Regions from separate parts of the Homo sapiens genome. Here region 1 is linked to region 2. A link means that fine-mapping ties the variant in region 2 to the expression of a gene that starts in the linked region. Tissue or cell type: coronary artery. Region 2 holds a variant in brackets; the other region holds the start of a gene. All regions are shown on one strand. Distances are from middle to middle.

What was found. PIP is the estimated chance that this variant, and not a neighbour inherited with it, causes the effect.
Region 1: it holds the start of ACAD9, and the variant in region 2 is fine-mapped to the expression of ACAD9 in coronary artery (GTEx, PIP above 0.99).

What each region holds. Positions count from the first base shown.
Region 1 is chr3:128,874,970-128,883,131 of GRCh38, reverse strand. It overlaps ACAD9 (acyl-CoA dehydrogenase family member 9), which reads right to left and starts at 3,512. Exons shown (of 18, transcript NM_014049.5): 1 at 3,291-3,512. The coding sequence starts at 3,440. ACAD9-DT (ACAD9 divergent transcript) reads left to right here and starts at 3,696. Exons shown (of 3, transcript NR_186174.1): 1 at 3,696-3,996. RefSeq lists enhancers at 2,086-2,937, 3,246-3,325, 2,938-3,790, 3,386-3,935, 3,791-4,642.
Region 2 is chr3:129,614,094-129,622,255 of GRCh38, reverse strand. LOC124909431 (a long non-coding RNA gene) reads left to right here and starts at 6,455. Exons shown (of 2, transcript XR_007096079.1): 1 at 6,455-6,556. RefSeq lists an enhancer at 7,036-7,330. The variant C/GC (reference allele first, on the strand shown) is at 4,475.

The DNA.
Region 1 (8,162 bases), 740 kb after region 2:
GGGCAACAGAGTAAGACACTGTCTCAAGGAAAAAAAAAACAAGAAAAAAAAAAAAAAACAAGCTGATGGCTCCATCACTCTGCAGCCTTTTATATCAAAGCTCAGTCTCCTTCACTGAACACAGAGGCTCACTGACACTTGGGTCTTGTGCAATGGGCTGTGTTAGAGATCATTCTGGTACCAGTGGGCAGGCCAGATAAGACTGCCTGGCAACTAATTGGCCTTCAGGTACAACCACAGAAAACCTGCCACACAGGAGAGATTGCAGGGGCGTGGGAGAAAGATCCTGATGTTATCAAATCAGGTCAATGCCTTAGGGGAGGAGAGTTCAATTGCAATAAACAGTTTGTAAATTATCTAAAAAAGTGGAACCTGTTATTCAAAGAAATCTAGTGCAGAAACCAAATATGTAAAACAGACAGAAGCAGGCGGCTCTGACTGAGACTGCTGATAGGGAAAACAGGCACCCAAATCCCACCCACTCAACTTCCCACCCATCCCTGCAGCAGTTCCAGGACACTCCATGAATAGCTTGGGTCCAGCTTAGGGCAGGGTGACAACCACTGGCCTACACAATCTGAGATTCTAAGCATCATGTCCCATGTTTCTGCTCTAATCCCAGTAAGGCTGTGAGAGATGACACTGGCCTGATCCAAAGTAGCAGCAGAAGGGCCTAAAAGTGGTCAGATTCTAAGAACCTAAAAGTAGAGAAAACCAGATCTTCTGTGGAATTAGAAGTGGACTAGGAGAATAAGAGTACAAGGTGACTCCAGGTGTTCTGTTTGAACAGGTGGAACAACAGAGCCACCATTATCTATGATAAAGAAGGCTGGTGGAAGGAGCAGGATTGGGTGGGAACCAGGAACTCAGTTTGGGATCTATTAATCTCAAATGCCTGTTAGACCTCTTAGTACAGCTTTTGAGTACAAAGGTAGATTAAAAAAAGAATCTTGGCTGGGTGTGGCAGGGCGTGCCTGTAGTCCCAGCTACTGGGGATGCTGAAGTGGGAGGATCTATTGAGCCTTAGGAGTTCAAGGTTGCAGTGAGCTATGATGGCACCACTGCACTCCAGCACAGGTGACAGAGAAAGCCCCCAACTCTGAAAAAGCAAAAGGAATCTGGAGTTCAGGGAGAAATCTGAACTGAAGAAAGAAACTTGAGGCATCAGGATATTGATGATATTTAAAGCCAGGACACTAAATAAGGTCACCCAGCAGATGGCTGTAGATGAAACGAGACCCAGCCTTAGTAAATTCCAACTTGGCTAGTTGGAAACACTGGTCACTGTTTAGCGGTCAAGGAGCTGAATAAGAACCAGCAATGGACACAGAGAAGTATCAGCCAGTGAAGTATTTAGAACATTCAGAGAATGGCGAGAACAGTGATTCAGAAACCAGAGACGAAAGTGCGTCAACAGGGTGGAAGGATGAACGGTGTCAGATGCCAATGATGGGTCAAGTAGGATGAGGTCTGAGAACAGATCACACAATTTGATAACAGAGAGGTCATTACTGACTTCTATGGCCATTAGGGACAAATGCCTGAATGGTAAGGGCTCAAGATCCAGTAGAGAGAACAGTTAATGATGCAGAGAAAGGAAAGAATTACCCTTGAGTAGGTGAGAAGACCTGGAGTCTAATGAGAGGTTGGTTTTGCCAGGAGCAGACAGTTCACAGTAACAGAATGTAGATAATACCGGCACATATGCAGCGGGAGGGGGTAACTGTGCCTGTGAACTTCTCATCCGACTGCATGGATTTTCCCAGTGGAATGGGAAGCAAAGCTGACAGCTGAGAGTAAAGGCAGGGCAGGGCAGGTAGTGCCAGAGGTTTAAAGATGGAAACAGATCTGAAAGATCTGTGTTCTTTCTTCACCATGCTGCTGGATAGCAGGAAGTCCCAGGATAGAGCACCACACTGCCCCAGGTCCTGGGTAAAAGGTTTTCCAATATGTTCAAGACATAGCTCCGCACTTTCTAGCTGGGCAAACTGCTTTTAGTCTGAGTCTTAGCTTCTTCATCTGTAAAGTTGCTTGCTATAAAGGTATCAGCCTGACAACCTCAGAGGAACGTTCCAAAGAGAAGCCAGGGAATAACTTCTGTGATACAGGATCAGCCAACATTCAGCCAAGTTCAAAGTAGGGCACCTCGACGAAATAGCAAGTATACTGTTGGTTTCCTTAGAAGATAAAATGAAATACAAAGGAAAGAGCAAGAAATGTGTTTATTCCTATTTTGTAGATGAATGCACTGAGGCACAGGGAGGTGCAGCCGTCAGCTCCAAGGTCACAAGACTAAGTGTTGAAGCCAGCTCTCTCTTCTGCTGCACAGTACTCTACAGTTTAAGAAGACTCTCCATGCACCGTTTATCTCACTGGGGCTCTACAACACATCTGTGAAGGAGACACAACACTATCTCCATTTTAAGGCTGAAAGAACTGAGTCTTGGCCGGGCGCGGTGGCTCACCCCTGTAATCCCAGCACTGTGGGAGGCCGAGGTGGGCGGATCACCCGAGGTCAGTTCTAGACCAGCTTGGCCAACATGGTGAAACCCCGTCTCTGCTAAAAATACAAAAAAAAAAAAAGCCGGGCAGGCGCCTGTAATCCCAGCTACTCCGGAGGCTGAGGCAGGAGAATCGCTTGAACCCAGGAGGGAGGTTGCAGTGAGCACTCCAGCCTGGGCGACAAGAGCGCGACTCTGTCTCAAAAAAAACAACTGAGTTTCAAAGTCAACGAGCCAAGACCAAACCCAAGTCTTCCAACTCTAAGAAGACAATGAGTGTTTTATAACCAAACTGTTACTATTGGCTGGGTTGTGCCACCCTTGGGAAGCATCTTGGAGCCAGATTTCTGAGGAACCTCAATGGCAGGGAGAGGCGCTGGGCTCACCTGGGGAAGGAAGCCCCAGGGCGCTGGAAGGTGACTGAGGAGGGACATGGTGTAAGCTGTTTAGGAATCAGAGAGGAAGCCCCGCACATTTCCAGACCAGACCAGCTGAGATGAAGGCTGCTTTGTTAATTACCTAGCCTAGAGTTTTCCGAATTCCCCTGACAAAATTTAGCTGGAACACGTCACCACCACATTTCCAAGGGTCCCCCGTCTTGGAAATGTCTCACCCTTTCTCTGGGAAGGTTTTCCTGGAACTCAGGAATCCGGAGTGTTAACACGCCTCGGCCGCAGGGTGTATCTCTCTGGCAGGTTTGGGGAATCTCACAAAGTTCAACACCAGTCTTGCAGCTGAGGGTGAAAAGCGGGAGCCAGACAGCAAGGGTTCGCCCAGGGCTCGCGTTACCTTCTTGATTTTGCCTAGGAAAAGCTCTTTGGCGAAAGCTCGTACAGGCGGGCTGGTGCGCAGTAGCCGCCGGTTCGCGGTAGAGACCACCAGACCCCGGCAGGCACGAGCCGCAGCCGTGGTGCGCAGGAAGAGCCCGCAGCCGCTCATGCTGCCCGATGTTCCCCAGCCTCAGCCTCAGTCTCCCCTTCTTAGCGCCGCAGGGACACACACACGTCTGATGACGTTACTGGCCCGCGACAACGTGCAGTACTCACTGCGCTTGCGCGGTCCCCCGCAGCAGGGGATGGAGAGGCCAGAAGGGCGGGAAGGCTACCACCTGCCGCGCCCAAGGCCTTAGTCACGTGCACCTGGCTGGCCCGCGCCGCCTGATGACGTCACACGCCTACGCTTCCCGCCGGCCCCACTGCGCTTGCGCGGCCAAAGGAGCTGGCCGGAGGAAATTGTAGGCCCTGGGCCGCGGGCATCTCGGCGGGTATAATCTCTGGCCGTCGTGACGGCGGTGACGGACCTGTTTTTCACATACCAGCGGTTGTTTCCATAAATGCCAGCCATGGGAAATCTCCCTGTGTACAGAAACCTAAAGGCCGGCTCAGCTGCCTCCACTTGTCTCTTTTGTCACTTGTGGCCACGAGGCCGTGGTAAAACTTGAGAAAAGCAAAAGAATGAGGGAAATGCGCTGTATTGGGGTCTCTGCAGGGGCACGGTAAGGGTAAGGGTCCATTTTTAACTGGATGGTGGATTCCTGAGATACTGTTTTGTTCCTAGTTGACATGTATGTTACATATATTTTTTGGAAAAGGAAAAGAAAGTGGGTGTTCAGTCACAGAGCGGTCTGGATACAACTGAGTCACCTCTGTCCTGGGAAACACTAACTTAAAAGGCAGGCGGAGGAAGAGAAACTACAGAGAGAGCTGAGAAGAGATGGGAACTATTGGATGGGATGGGACAGGCCAGGCTGTAACCGCCCAAGGTTACAGCCCGCTGACTAGACAGCTGATTTATCAAGACGGAAATTGCAATAGAGAGAGAGTAATTCACGCAGAGCCGGGTGTGTTGGAAAGGGAGTTTTATTAGCCAAATCGGTCTCCCCAAAAACGGATCGGAATTTTTAAGGATAATTTGGCGAGTAGAAGCTCGGGAAGTGGGAGGTGCATGATTGGTCGGGTTGGAGATGGACTGATAGGGGGCCGAAGTGAGTTTTTCTTGCTGTCTTCTGTTCCTGAATGGGATTGCAGAACTAGTTGAGCCAGATTACCAGTCTGGGTGTTGGTAGGTTTTACAACAGTGATGTTATTCCCAGGAACAATTTGGGGGACGTTCAGACTCTTGCAACCAAAGGCTGTATGGCCTCTAAACTGTAATTTCTAATCTTATAGCTAATTTGTTAGTCCTCCAAAGGCCAACTGGTCCCAGGCAAGAAGAGGTTGTTTTTTGTTGTTGTTGTTGTTGTTTTCCCGGGAAAGGGCTATTTTTGTTTTGAAGTTAAACTATAAACTCATTCCTTCCCAAGGTTAGTTCAGCCTACGCTCAGGAATGAACAAGGACAGCTTGGAGGTTAGAAGCAAGATGGAGTTGGTTAGGTCAGATCTCTTTCATTGTCTCGGTTATAATTTTGCAGTGGCGGTTTCAAGGCCAGGCCATAGGGGCCCACGTAGGAGGCAGGGCATGCCTGGCACCTCACAGCCCAACAGTGCTCTGAACGTGGCACATGGGCCCTCTACAGATCTTCAGCCAGCTCCTCCAGGAAGAATGCCACTCTGCTTTTTCACCCAGACCGGTAATCTGGCTCAACAAGTTTTGCAATCCCACCTAGGAACAGAAGACAGCAAGAAAAACTCACTTCAACCCCCTATCATTCCATCTCCAACCCAACCAGTCAGCACTCCCCACTTCCCGAGCTCCTACTCGCCAAATTATCCTTAAAAACTCCGATCCCTGTTTTGGGGGAGACTTGCTTGTTCCCCGACTGTAGCATTGACCACAGTGTTGGGAAATGCCTCCAGCTTCCATTGTGTCAACTCCTTGAGAAGAAAAAGAAATCCCTTTCATCTCAGCAAGCTAAGCTCAGCACCAAAAAAGATTACATTGCTAACACAACATCAAGAAAAAAGAGCTCAAAACTCTGCAAGGCGTAGAGTCTAAACTGCAAAATATTTGCAGGCATCTTTTCAGATTATTTTACCTTGTCTAAGGTCTCTCACCTGGTTTCTTCATCAGTGGTTGATATTTACTTGCTTAGCATTCAGCTTCACAAGAAGGTATTTGGAAACAACTGCCTTTGTAAATTATCCCCATAGGTAAAACAAAGAAAAATATACATATGTTGCAAAAACTGTTTCAATTTTGAGCTGCTGTACTTTTTTGCCAAACAAATGTAGTCAAATCAGTCAAGTACTCTGTTAATGTGTCAAATGTTTAGTGTACACAGGTCTCCCTAAATCAACCAAATGAGAAATCCAGTGGCACAGAATTTTACAAAACAAAAATTAGAAAAATGTTAAGGCATAGTTTCTAATTGCTCCAATAGAGTATAGCAGAAGAGTTTTGCTGTTTCACTACTATACTAGTTTCTAAATTCAGTTTCCTCATCTGTAAATATGAGTATGATACCCTTTATCTCACAGGACTTTTAAAAGGTTTAAGTAAATCCACATGAAAGCACTTAGCACAGCAAGTGATAAAAATGACAATAGTTACACTTTGATCCTTCCATCTTATATTTAAGTATTAGCCTCTGAGAAATATGATGTTGTTTTAAACAGTTTCCCCTGTTCAGTGTACTAAAAGAAAAACTTCAGCTGAATTAAATTTAAAGGAGCTTAATTGGCCGGGTCGGGTGCAGTGCCTCATACCTGTAATCCCAGCACTTTGGGAGGATGAAGTGGGCAGATCACTTGAGGTCAGGAGTTCGAGACCAGCCTGGCCAACATTGTGAAACCCTGTCTCTACCAAAAATACAAAAATTACTGGGCATGGTGGTGAGTGCCTCTAATCCCAGCCACTCGGTAGGCTGAGGCATGAGAATCACTTGAACCCGGGAGGTGGAGGTTGCAGTGAGCCAAGATTGCACCACTGCACTCCATCCTGGACGACAGAGCAAGACTCTGTCTCAAAAGAAAAAAAGTTTAATTGAGCAATCGATTCAAATCAGGCAGCTTTCTGAGCCAGAGCAAGCTCAGACACTCCAGCACAGCCATGTAATGGAAGATTTATGGACAGCAAAGGAAAGTGAGGTACAGAAACAGCTGGATTGGTTACAGCTCTGCCTTGCCTTATTTGAACATGGTTTGAACAGTTGGCTACATTTGATTGGCAAAAACTCTGTGATTGGCACAAGTATAGGCTACGGTCTGTTTATGCCTCCACTTATAGTTCACAATGTGCAGAAAACCTATAAGCCGAACTTAAAATATATAAGGAAGCAGCTTTAGGCTAAACTTGATTTAACAACTGTTTAAAATATCCTCATGGTAGTTCTGAATGTCTCCTCACATCAATACAACTGATTCACAACATAACTTAACAGAAAGTGAACATTCTTTAGCCATAATGTTAGTGTTAGCATAGCAGAATCCTTGACTCTGGGTATGAGGAACATTGAGTAGAAACTACTGCTTGATCCCTTACTATTAAAGCTGAGGCTGAGATTGGACTGATTATTTTACAAGCCAAAGACCACCAAACCATCAAAAGGTAGGAGAAAGGCTTTCCTGCAGATGCTGCTGCAAAGACCTGCCCCTTCCACCTTACACCACCATCCCCAAGGGCCTAGAGGCCTCTGCCTAGAGCTGGGGGAAGAGGAGACTGCGAAGAACGATCCCATCTTTTAAAAACCGGACAGAAATCACGGATTCCTTCCACTTACATTCCCTTGGGAAGAACTTAATTTGGGGGCAGGGGCTAGGAAAGGGAGTGCCTGGGCAGAAACGGTTTTGACAAGCGTTCGTATCAGGACAATTTGGGAAAACCCAGGTGAGTGATTACTGAGTGACCCTCGACTCCGGTGTTTTGACACCAAAATGTGCAAGGCTTCCTCTCTGATTCTTAAACATCTCAGGCCATGCCGCTCCCATGTCACCCTCTAGTGGCCTGTGGGCTTCCTTGCCAGCTGAGCCCTAGCCCTACCCCCGCCTTTGAGGTTCCGCAGAAATCTAGCTGCAGGGTGACTTCCACAGGTCTCACAACCCAGCCAATAGTAACAGCTAGGTTATTAAACACACCATCCTCTTAGAGGTGAAAGGCTTAGCCTTGGGTTCAATTCATTCAGCTTTAAAATGGAGCTAGTGATTTGTCTCACTTGAAGATGTTGTAGAGCCCAGTGAGATATGTAGTGCATGGAGATTGGAAGGTACTGTGCAGCAGAGGACATGGACAGTGCAGGCTCAAGAAGATCTTGTGACCTTGAGCAAGTCACTTTTCCTCCCTGTTCCTCAGTGTGCTCATCTACAAAATAGGAGTAAACACAGTAGCGTTTCCCCCTTCCTAGGGGTGCCTTGTTTTCAGCTTGGCTGAATGTTGGCTGATCCTGTATCACAGAAGTTATTCCCTGGCTTCTCTTTGGAACATTCCTCTGAGGTTGTCAGGCTGATCCCTTTATAGCAAGCAACTTTACAGATGCAGAAGCTAAGACTCAGACTAAAAGCAGCTTGCCCTGCTAGGAAATGCAGAGCTATGTCTTTAACATATGGGAAACCCTTTTACCCAGGACCTGGGGCAGTGTGGTGCTCTATCCTGGGATCTCCTGCCTCCCAGCAGCATGGCGAAGAAAGAACACAAATCTTTCAGATCTGTTTCCATCTTTAAACCTCTGGCACCACCTGTCCTGCCCTGCCCTTTCTCTCAGCTGTCAGCTTTGCTTCCCATTCCACT
Region 2 (8,162 bases):
TTCAGGCAGGATCTGGGAGTGGAGACAATGAAATTAATGTTATTTTTTTTTCCTTCCAAGCAGTTTCTCTTCATTGAGAGCTGTGGGACTGGATTCCACCTCGCCTTCCGGTCTGCAGAGGAGCCGGCAGGAGAGGATGGGTGTGGGTGGGGGAGGTCAGGGAGGGCACGGATGGGGAGGGGAGGGGTCAGGCAAGGCAGGGCCAGCAGTAGCGAAAGACTGATGTGCCGTGCTCCTTCCTGCCTCTGGGTCTTTGCACATGCTGTTTCCTCCTCTCCCTGCCTGAACTACTGCATCCATTGGCAGCTCCGGTGCCTCTTTGAGGTTAGGCATCACCTCCTCCAGGAAGCCCTCTCTGACCTCCCTGCACCGAGGCTAAACTGCTGGTGGCCTCTTCTTGCTCTCATGAAGTTGCATTCCATCTTCCCCTGTGCACTGGGCATACTGGCTTATGGCCCCCTCCTCTGCTGAGCCAGCACCCAGCACCGGGCTGAAGACGGCCCTTAGTGGACAGCTGAGCCGAGCATGGAAAGGGACGCTAGTGTGATGACCCCTCCGCAGTCCTCACTGCCTGCTCAGGAGTCTCCATCTGGGGGTGGGAGGTGCAGATGCGGAGAAAGCAGAGGGGAGAGTCAAACTTACACAGGAGGGCCAGGGGGTGGGGGACAGTGGCACAGAAGGAGTGTGGGTGGGACAGCCCACAGGGCTGGACTCGGATGATTCTGGCTGTGTGGCCTTGGGCAGTGAGTTTGCTTGTCAGCCTCAATTTCCTTCTCTGATACATGGGGATAACAGCAACGCCCGGCAAAACTGACCCGGCCAGTCCCGGCGTGAGGCCTGGCGGGCCTTTGCTTAGCAAGGGCAGGAACTGGGGTTGGTGCTGGGCGGGTGGGGTCTCGTGGCTGGGAGGGTCTAGGGCACAGGAGCACAAGCAGACCCACAGATTGCATCAATCATCCCCCACCATTCAACTCCCGGTGCTGAAAATAGCGCCACCCCCAACTCTTGCCTTCTCCCAGCATCCTCCCCAAGGGGCCTGGGGTCACACAAATGGAAGTGAATTATGGGCAGTGGGGATTCAGACCTGCTGTAAATTACACGTGGCTGCAACTGCTAAGAGCCTTTTCCGGGGCTTATCATTTAACCTCTCAGCTCCTCCCCAGTCACACTGGGCCTAGCATTGGGTGGGCACGAGAAGGTCCCAAGGGTCAGGGCTCCGTCCTGGGCTTCCTATGCCCAAGCCCCATGCATGGCCTTGAGGTCTGGTGAGGAGACTGGGGCTAGAGTGGGTGAGAGGAGGCAGGCGGAGGCAGCTCCTGCTTCAGCACCTGCACGCTTCTGTCTGGATGGGGATAAGCACCTTGCACTGTGGAGGGTAACTCGCAGATGGGGACACTAACCAGGGTATTCCCTTCCCCTACCTTCCCCATCATTCTGCAGCATGTGCTGACACTAACACCAATGTCCATCAGATAGTGGCCAGAGTTTCCCGGGGTCACAGCTGTACCTCCCTGTAAAAATCCAGGTCCCCCAACCCATCGCTTTCCCCTCTGCTTTTTGTTTTGGAGACAGGGTCCCGCTCTGTCACACAGGCTGGAGTGCAGTGGTGCGATCATAGCTCATTGAACTGTGGACCTTCTGGGCTCAAGCAATCCTCCCACCTCAGCCTCCTGAGTAGCTGGGACCACAGGCATGTGCCACCTCGTTCTGCCTCCATGTTTTTTTTAACAGAAATAATACATATTCTTTGAGGAAAACTTAGAAAATTCAGACACAAAAAAAGAAAAACTTCAAAACTGGCTGGGTGCAGTGGCTCACGCCTATAATCCCAGCACCTTGAGAGGCCAAGGATGGGGATCACTTGAGGCCAGGAGTTTAAAACCAGCCTGGGCAACATCACGAGACCCCCGTCTCTACATAAAATTTTTAAAAATTTAAAAACAAACTCTACCACCCCCCAGCCGCCCTACCCTAGACTAGAGGTCATAACCCAACAATGCTCCTGTGGGTCTGTCCTGTGTGGTCCTGCCTCTCCTTGGCCCCATGTCCTGGGTCTGCCCACCCTCGGTGGCCAGGCCTCAGGGTGCCCATCTAGTTGCACAGCCCATCCAAGCCCAGATCCTTTTGAGGCAGAGGTTTCCCAGCTCTGGCACCAAAAGGGAAGTGAGAATGGAGAGGCAGCAGTGGTGGTGACATGGGTCCAGCTGAGGATGTGAAGGTGCCCCTGAGCTGGGCTGCCCGTGGCTGGCCTGCACCGCCTCTTTTCTGGGATGGAGGCTCCCTGGGTGCTGCTCCCCTGCTGCCCGGCCAATTCTATCCTTGGGGTCCCTGGAGCCCCGGGTTGTGATGCAGGGAAGAAGAGGGACCCTGGTCCCCAGAGACTCCCCTGAGCCCCCTGCCCAGGCAGCCCCTGGCTTTGACTCAGTCTGCCCAGCCAAGCCTCTCGAGTGAGGATGGGGAAATTGAGGCCTGGCGGGGAAGGGGAACCTGGCTGGCCCTGTTTTCAGATAGAGACTGAGCCAGGACTAGAACCTTGGCCTGGCAGGTCTGTGCCCCCTTCCCTGAGCCTGCTCCAGACTTGGTGGTGGCTGCCTCTGGAGCAGTTTTGGAGTCCCCTGGGCCTCCTGTACCCCCTGAGGCTTAGAAGCCAGAGAGATCTCCATGACCACACAGAGCTGGGTTCAAGGCCTCTCTTTGGCCTTCTGGAAAACGGGGCCAGGGAGAGCCTCTGCTCATGTGCTCATGTGGACAGTGAATGAGATCACAGCAGGCCCGGCCTGTGCAGTGGCCCAGGACGGGTGTCCACTGGGTTGGAGGGTTTGGGCTGGAGGCTGTTCCTGGTGGGCCCCAGGTGTGGCAGGACAATGGGCCTGGTGGCTGCATCTGTGCTGACGAAACCGGCTTCCGCAGGGGCCCCACAGGGCTGCCTGTTTTGCTGGGGAGAGGGTCTTCCCTCCTATCCTCTTCCTCTAGGCCTCCTTCCTGCCACCCTGGGTGGTGGTCCAGCCTTCTGTGCAGGTCTCAGCCGTCTCGCCCATAGTGCCGGCGGCCGCCTGCCCCTGTTCTGACTCACTTCCTACTTCTGGGAGCTGGAAATAGCCTCCCCTGGATGGTGGGACAGGCCGGGGGCTCTACCCCCACCCTGTGCTCACAGGTGGAGGAGCATCCGCCTGCAGTGTCTGGCCCTCAGGTCCCAGCGGTGGACGGGACAGAGGAGGACCCTGCCCTGTGCCATCTGCAGACGTTAATCAAACGACACAGCTGCCGTGCAGAGCACATGAGGACGGCTGAGCCACCGGGGCAGGCGGGGTGCAGCCCTCAGCCGGAGGACCCTTGAGCTGAGCCGGATGCATGGGGTGTTTATGGGCTGGGGGGAAGTACAGGTGGTCGCAGGCGAGGGGGACGGTAATGACGAAGGCCTGGTGGGAGGCAGTAGGAGCGCAGGTATGACTGGAGTGGGTGGGGCCGCCATGGAGATGGGAACCTGGGCTAAGGGACCTGGCTTTACCCTGAGAGCGTTTGCAGGACTTGAAGTTGGAGAAAAACAACACAACCAGATTTGCAGCTTGAAAATGTCCCACAGGAAAAGTGATTTGAGGAGAGGAAGGGAGGAGGGCAGCAGAGAGAGGAAGTGGGAGGGGAGGTCCAGGCGGGAGGTGACGGCTCAGACGGGTACAGTAGTCTTGGGGCTAAAAGGGACAAACTGACTAGGGGACTCGGGGACTTCTGGGCCTTTAGTACTCAGAGTCTAAGCAGGGGTGATTGGGAAGCAACCTCTGGACAGGTGGGAGGAAGGGACGGGGCATCCAGGTGCCTCCCGGGTTCTGCCTTGGGCAGCTGGGTGGGGTGGTGGACTGGGGACATGCAGGGTGGGACTGTGGGGGATCTCAGCCTCGGTTTAGGACACTTACTTGCATTTGAGCCTCTAGCCCTGCCACTGCCACAGCCCCCCATTCACATTTTGGGGGACACACATTGGGGTGGGCGGCAGGCCGCGGGTGACAGAACACCATCTACAACTTACAAGGGATCGAGGAAGACACTGACGTGGGCTCAGAAGGCCCCAGGAGCTGCCACCCCCAAGGCCGCAGGACTTGTTGGTGAAAGGATGCCCTCCTCTGCCTGACCACCCTCATGGTTGTCTCACCTGCCTTCCCTGGGGTCTCCTGCCTCTGCCTCCCCCTCCCACAGCATCTCCCGCCATGTGCTGAGACAACAGCTCCCAGCCCAGCACCCTCCTCGGCCCCCATCTCACTGAGGGTGCCTGTCAGGGTCCTCACAGTGGCCTCAGGAAGCATTAGCTGCATTGACTCCAAAAGTATGTTTCCACCTCAGACCTCGTAGTCTTGATTCAGCCATGCCCTGGGGGCTGTGCCAGGGATGACTGGGCTCCTGTGAGCCGCCAAGGTGCAGCCTCACCCCAGACTTGCAGATGGGAAAAAGGCTCTGTCCAAGGTCCCACCGTGCAGAGGGG[C/GC]AAAGCTGGATTTGAACCCAGATCCTTCTGGCTCCACAGCCTCCTATGTTGCATGGGGACCCCAAAGTGCCTCCTCCTGCCCGCCAGGGGCTGTGAGCTGGGGGAATGGAGGTGAGACTGGCATGACTGTCCTGTACATCTCATCCCAGCTAAGTCACGTCCTCCCTGGAAAACCTGTATTTTAGAGACACAAACCCTTCTCGGGCCAGGGTGTGGGTAGCCACCTTCCCTGACAGGTGGGTGAGTGGCAGGTGGGGATACCGCAGGAGGCCAGGGGAGAAGGTCAAAGCTGCCTCCCCGTTGGCTGCCCTGGAGGCTACACAGGAGTGGGCACCAGCCCAGAAGATGTTGGGAGGACGTTCATTCATCTCCTCTCTCATTTGTTCCTTCATGTGTTCATTCACTCTCGTGAGCCTGCTTAGAGTTTAACCTTCTGCCTAGTGATGGGGGGACATAGGTATGTTCCCAAAAGACTTAGCTCTTCAGATGCCTCCTGGTTGGCAGAGGAGCCAGAGCAACAGAGACAGCATCACCTGGTGTGGGTGCTTGGATGGTGGGAGTCCAGGGTACTGTGGGGGTAGAGGAGGAGGAAGCCTAACCCAGCCTGTGAGAGCTGAGAAGGCTGCCTGGAAGAGGAGCAGCCAGATCCAAATCTTGGAGACACCAGGAGACTTATCCAGGGGGAGAAGGCAGGAGGGAAGTTCAGGGGCCTGGTAGGACTGAATCCCACACTGACAAGGGGACTCGGGGACTTCTGGGCCTTCAGGACTCAGAGTCTAAGTAGGAGTGGGGAAGTCACAGGGGAAGCCACAGGGGAAAGAGGGTGGCTCATCCCGAGATACCCAGCTGTCGTTCTCGTAAGGCTGCTCTTGAGTAAGGAGGGATGATGTCACCCAAAACTCCCTAAAGAACTGGTCCCAAGTTCCTCCGCAGAGAGGACTCTGGCCAGGGAAATCCAGAGTGAGTGTTACTCACAGGCTGGGCTGCCCTAGCTTAAGGGCTGATCCCCCCAAGGCCAGAAGCTGGACCACTCAAGGTTGGAGGCTAGACCACCTCAGATCAGAGACTGGATCATCCAGGGCCACCCAAGGTCAGGCCGAGGCCTCCAAAGCAGAGATCTGGCTCTTGGAGATTGACTATAAAATCGCATGTTTCATGAAGAAGCCCTCATTCAGCCACAGGGCATCAGGACCTGTCAGAGGCCCTGACAGAAAAGGTCCCGATAGCCTCCAAGGCCCAAATCCCCAGCGTGAACCACAGACCCTGGGCCCCGGCAGGCCTTGGCTCCCAGCCACAGCCCTCGTGCAAGTCCACTCCATCAGCCTGTTGCCCATGCAGACCTTGGCTTGTACAGCCACCTCCACCACATACCAGGAATTCCCATGTGTGTGCATGTGACCCCAATATGCACCCCATGCACACGAACACACATTATACCCCTCCTCACATGCACGGCACCCCATCTTTGCACAGACCACCCCCTCATGCCCACATGCACACACACAATGGGGTATCCCTGAGACAGGGGCTTTCACAGGCTGGTACAGGCTGTGCAAGAAGCTCACTACAGGGCGGGACCCCTAATGCCTCTCTCTTGGTGGCTGGGAGCTGGGCCAGTGTGCTGCGGCCCATGTGCTGTGGCCCCTGCCCTTCCTGGACAGCTCTGGGAAGGTTCTTCCCCCTTCAGAGCCATCAGCCTGGGGTGGCAGCTTCCACTTCTGTGAGCGTGCACAGATAAACAATCCCTGTGGTGGCTGCCAAGGGGAACCCGCACCCAGTGGAGCCCCTGTGCCCAGAGGCTGGGCTGGTGGTTGGGACCCTCTCAAAGTTAACACCCCCAAGAACGAGCCCTGGATCCTCCACCAGCCTGCTGCTGGCCTCTCACCCTCCTCTGCTCGCCTCTCACCCTCCTCTGCTCTGCCCACACGGGCCTCTGTCCTCCAGGGCTCCGCCCTTGCTGTGCCCTGCCTGGAAGGCTCTCTTCACCCTCCTGACTCTGCTGCATCCTGCAGATCTCAGCCCCAGGGGCCCGAGGAAGATGGGCTGGAGTCCCCTTGGGAGAAACTTTTCCAGAACCACCTGGTATGGCTCCTTTGTAAGATGGGTGGCTCTTTGTGGTTGTGTAATTATTTGAGTTATTTGGTTAAAGATTATTTGCCCCCTGGGGTAGGGCTGAAGACAAGGACCATGCTTGTGGGCTCACTATGATATCCCAGTGCCTGGCACATAGTAGGTGCTTAGTTAAGGGTTCTTTCTGAAGGAAGGAGAAAGGAAGGAAGAAGGGAGGGAGGGAGGGAGGGAGGGAGAAGAATGACCCTCAGTGTTCTATTCCGCCCAGGGTTTTGCTTGTGTGTCATGAGATGAGGGACAGGACCCTCAGAACTCCACCAGGAATCAGGTGTGAACGGTCACCTTGAGGGCCAGTGGGTGTCCCAGATGAGGCAGGAGGTGCAGGAGGGCTGATGTGGCCTGCTCTTATGAGGGGCAGTCAGTAGGGCCAATGGACAGTGGGGACAGGGAGGTCGCTTTGGCAGCATCTGCCTGGCACTGCCCAGGGAGGGGGTCTCCAGCAGCCAACATGACCATCCTGCCTGCTGGGGGGGCATGTCCTGGGGTGGTGCTGGCAGCCATCTGCCCAGCCCAACATTTATTAGTAGTGATCGTGTGTTCCACCCTGGAAGCGCTCCCAGTGCACTGGGGAAGTCACGTGCCCTCGCACTGGGTGATATGAGGTTTGATAGGAGGAGCTCTAAGTGGGTGGAGGAACTCCTAATACTGCTTTGAGGCTCAAGGAAGTCTTCTCAGAAGGTCTTTAGACTAGGTCTTGAGGGAGGCCTAGGAGTTCACTAGGAAAGACTTTCCAGAGAAGGTGAAATTGGGTTGGGTCTTGAGGGATACAAAAAGTTCACTCAGAAAACAAGAGAGGAAACACCTTTTCTGGACACTGGGTTCTCTCTAGGGGCTCATGTAGGCCATCAGACCAGTAAGACCACAGTATTCCGGGACCCTGCTCACCCATGCCAGCCTCTCCTGTACGCCCTGTGTGTGACCGTATGGGTGAGGGCCCCTCCACTGCCCCATCCTAGAGCGGTTGGGATTGTGCCAGTGTGGAGTGTGCTCGGCACACAGCAAGTGCTTGGTCGGAGTGGGCTCTCAGAATCGTGCAGCTGGTCCGAGGTGGGGCCATGTCTAGGGTCTGCAGCTTGCATACTCGTGACAGGCACTCACCCTGCTGCAGGCAGCCCTTCCTTCTCCAGACCCAGCAGCAGTTTCAAAAGATGAGTGGGGCCTTGTCAGTCCCCACTGAGTTGGCTGGAACCAAGTGGTGAGGTTGGGGCCACTGGAAGGGAAAGGCCTGGTCGGGAAGCAGGCTCACCTGGATTTTAGCTCACACCTGCCCGGCCTCCCTGAGGCTTCCAAGGATGGCTTCATTCCCAGCCAGGTCTCTCAGGAAGCATGGAAGGTGAGAAAACAGTTCTCAGAAGTTTACTGGGGCATAAAGGGAGCCAGGAAGCCTTACAGGGTGGAAACGGGTCTGAAGTGGGGTGTATGTGCCAGCCCAAGACTTAAGAGAACCCCTTGGGGCCCATTGGCACTGGGGCCTGGGGCCATGGAGACTCAAGTTCATTAAGAACAGGACTCAGGCCGGGTGCGGTGGCTCACACCTGTAATCCCAGCACTTTGGGAG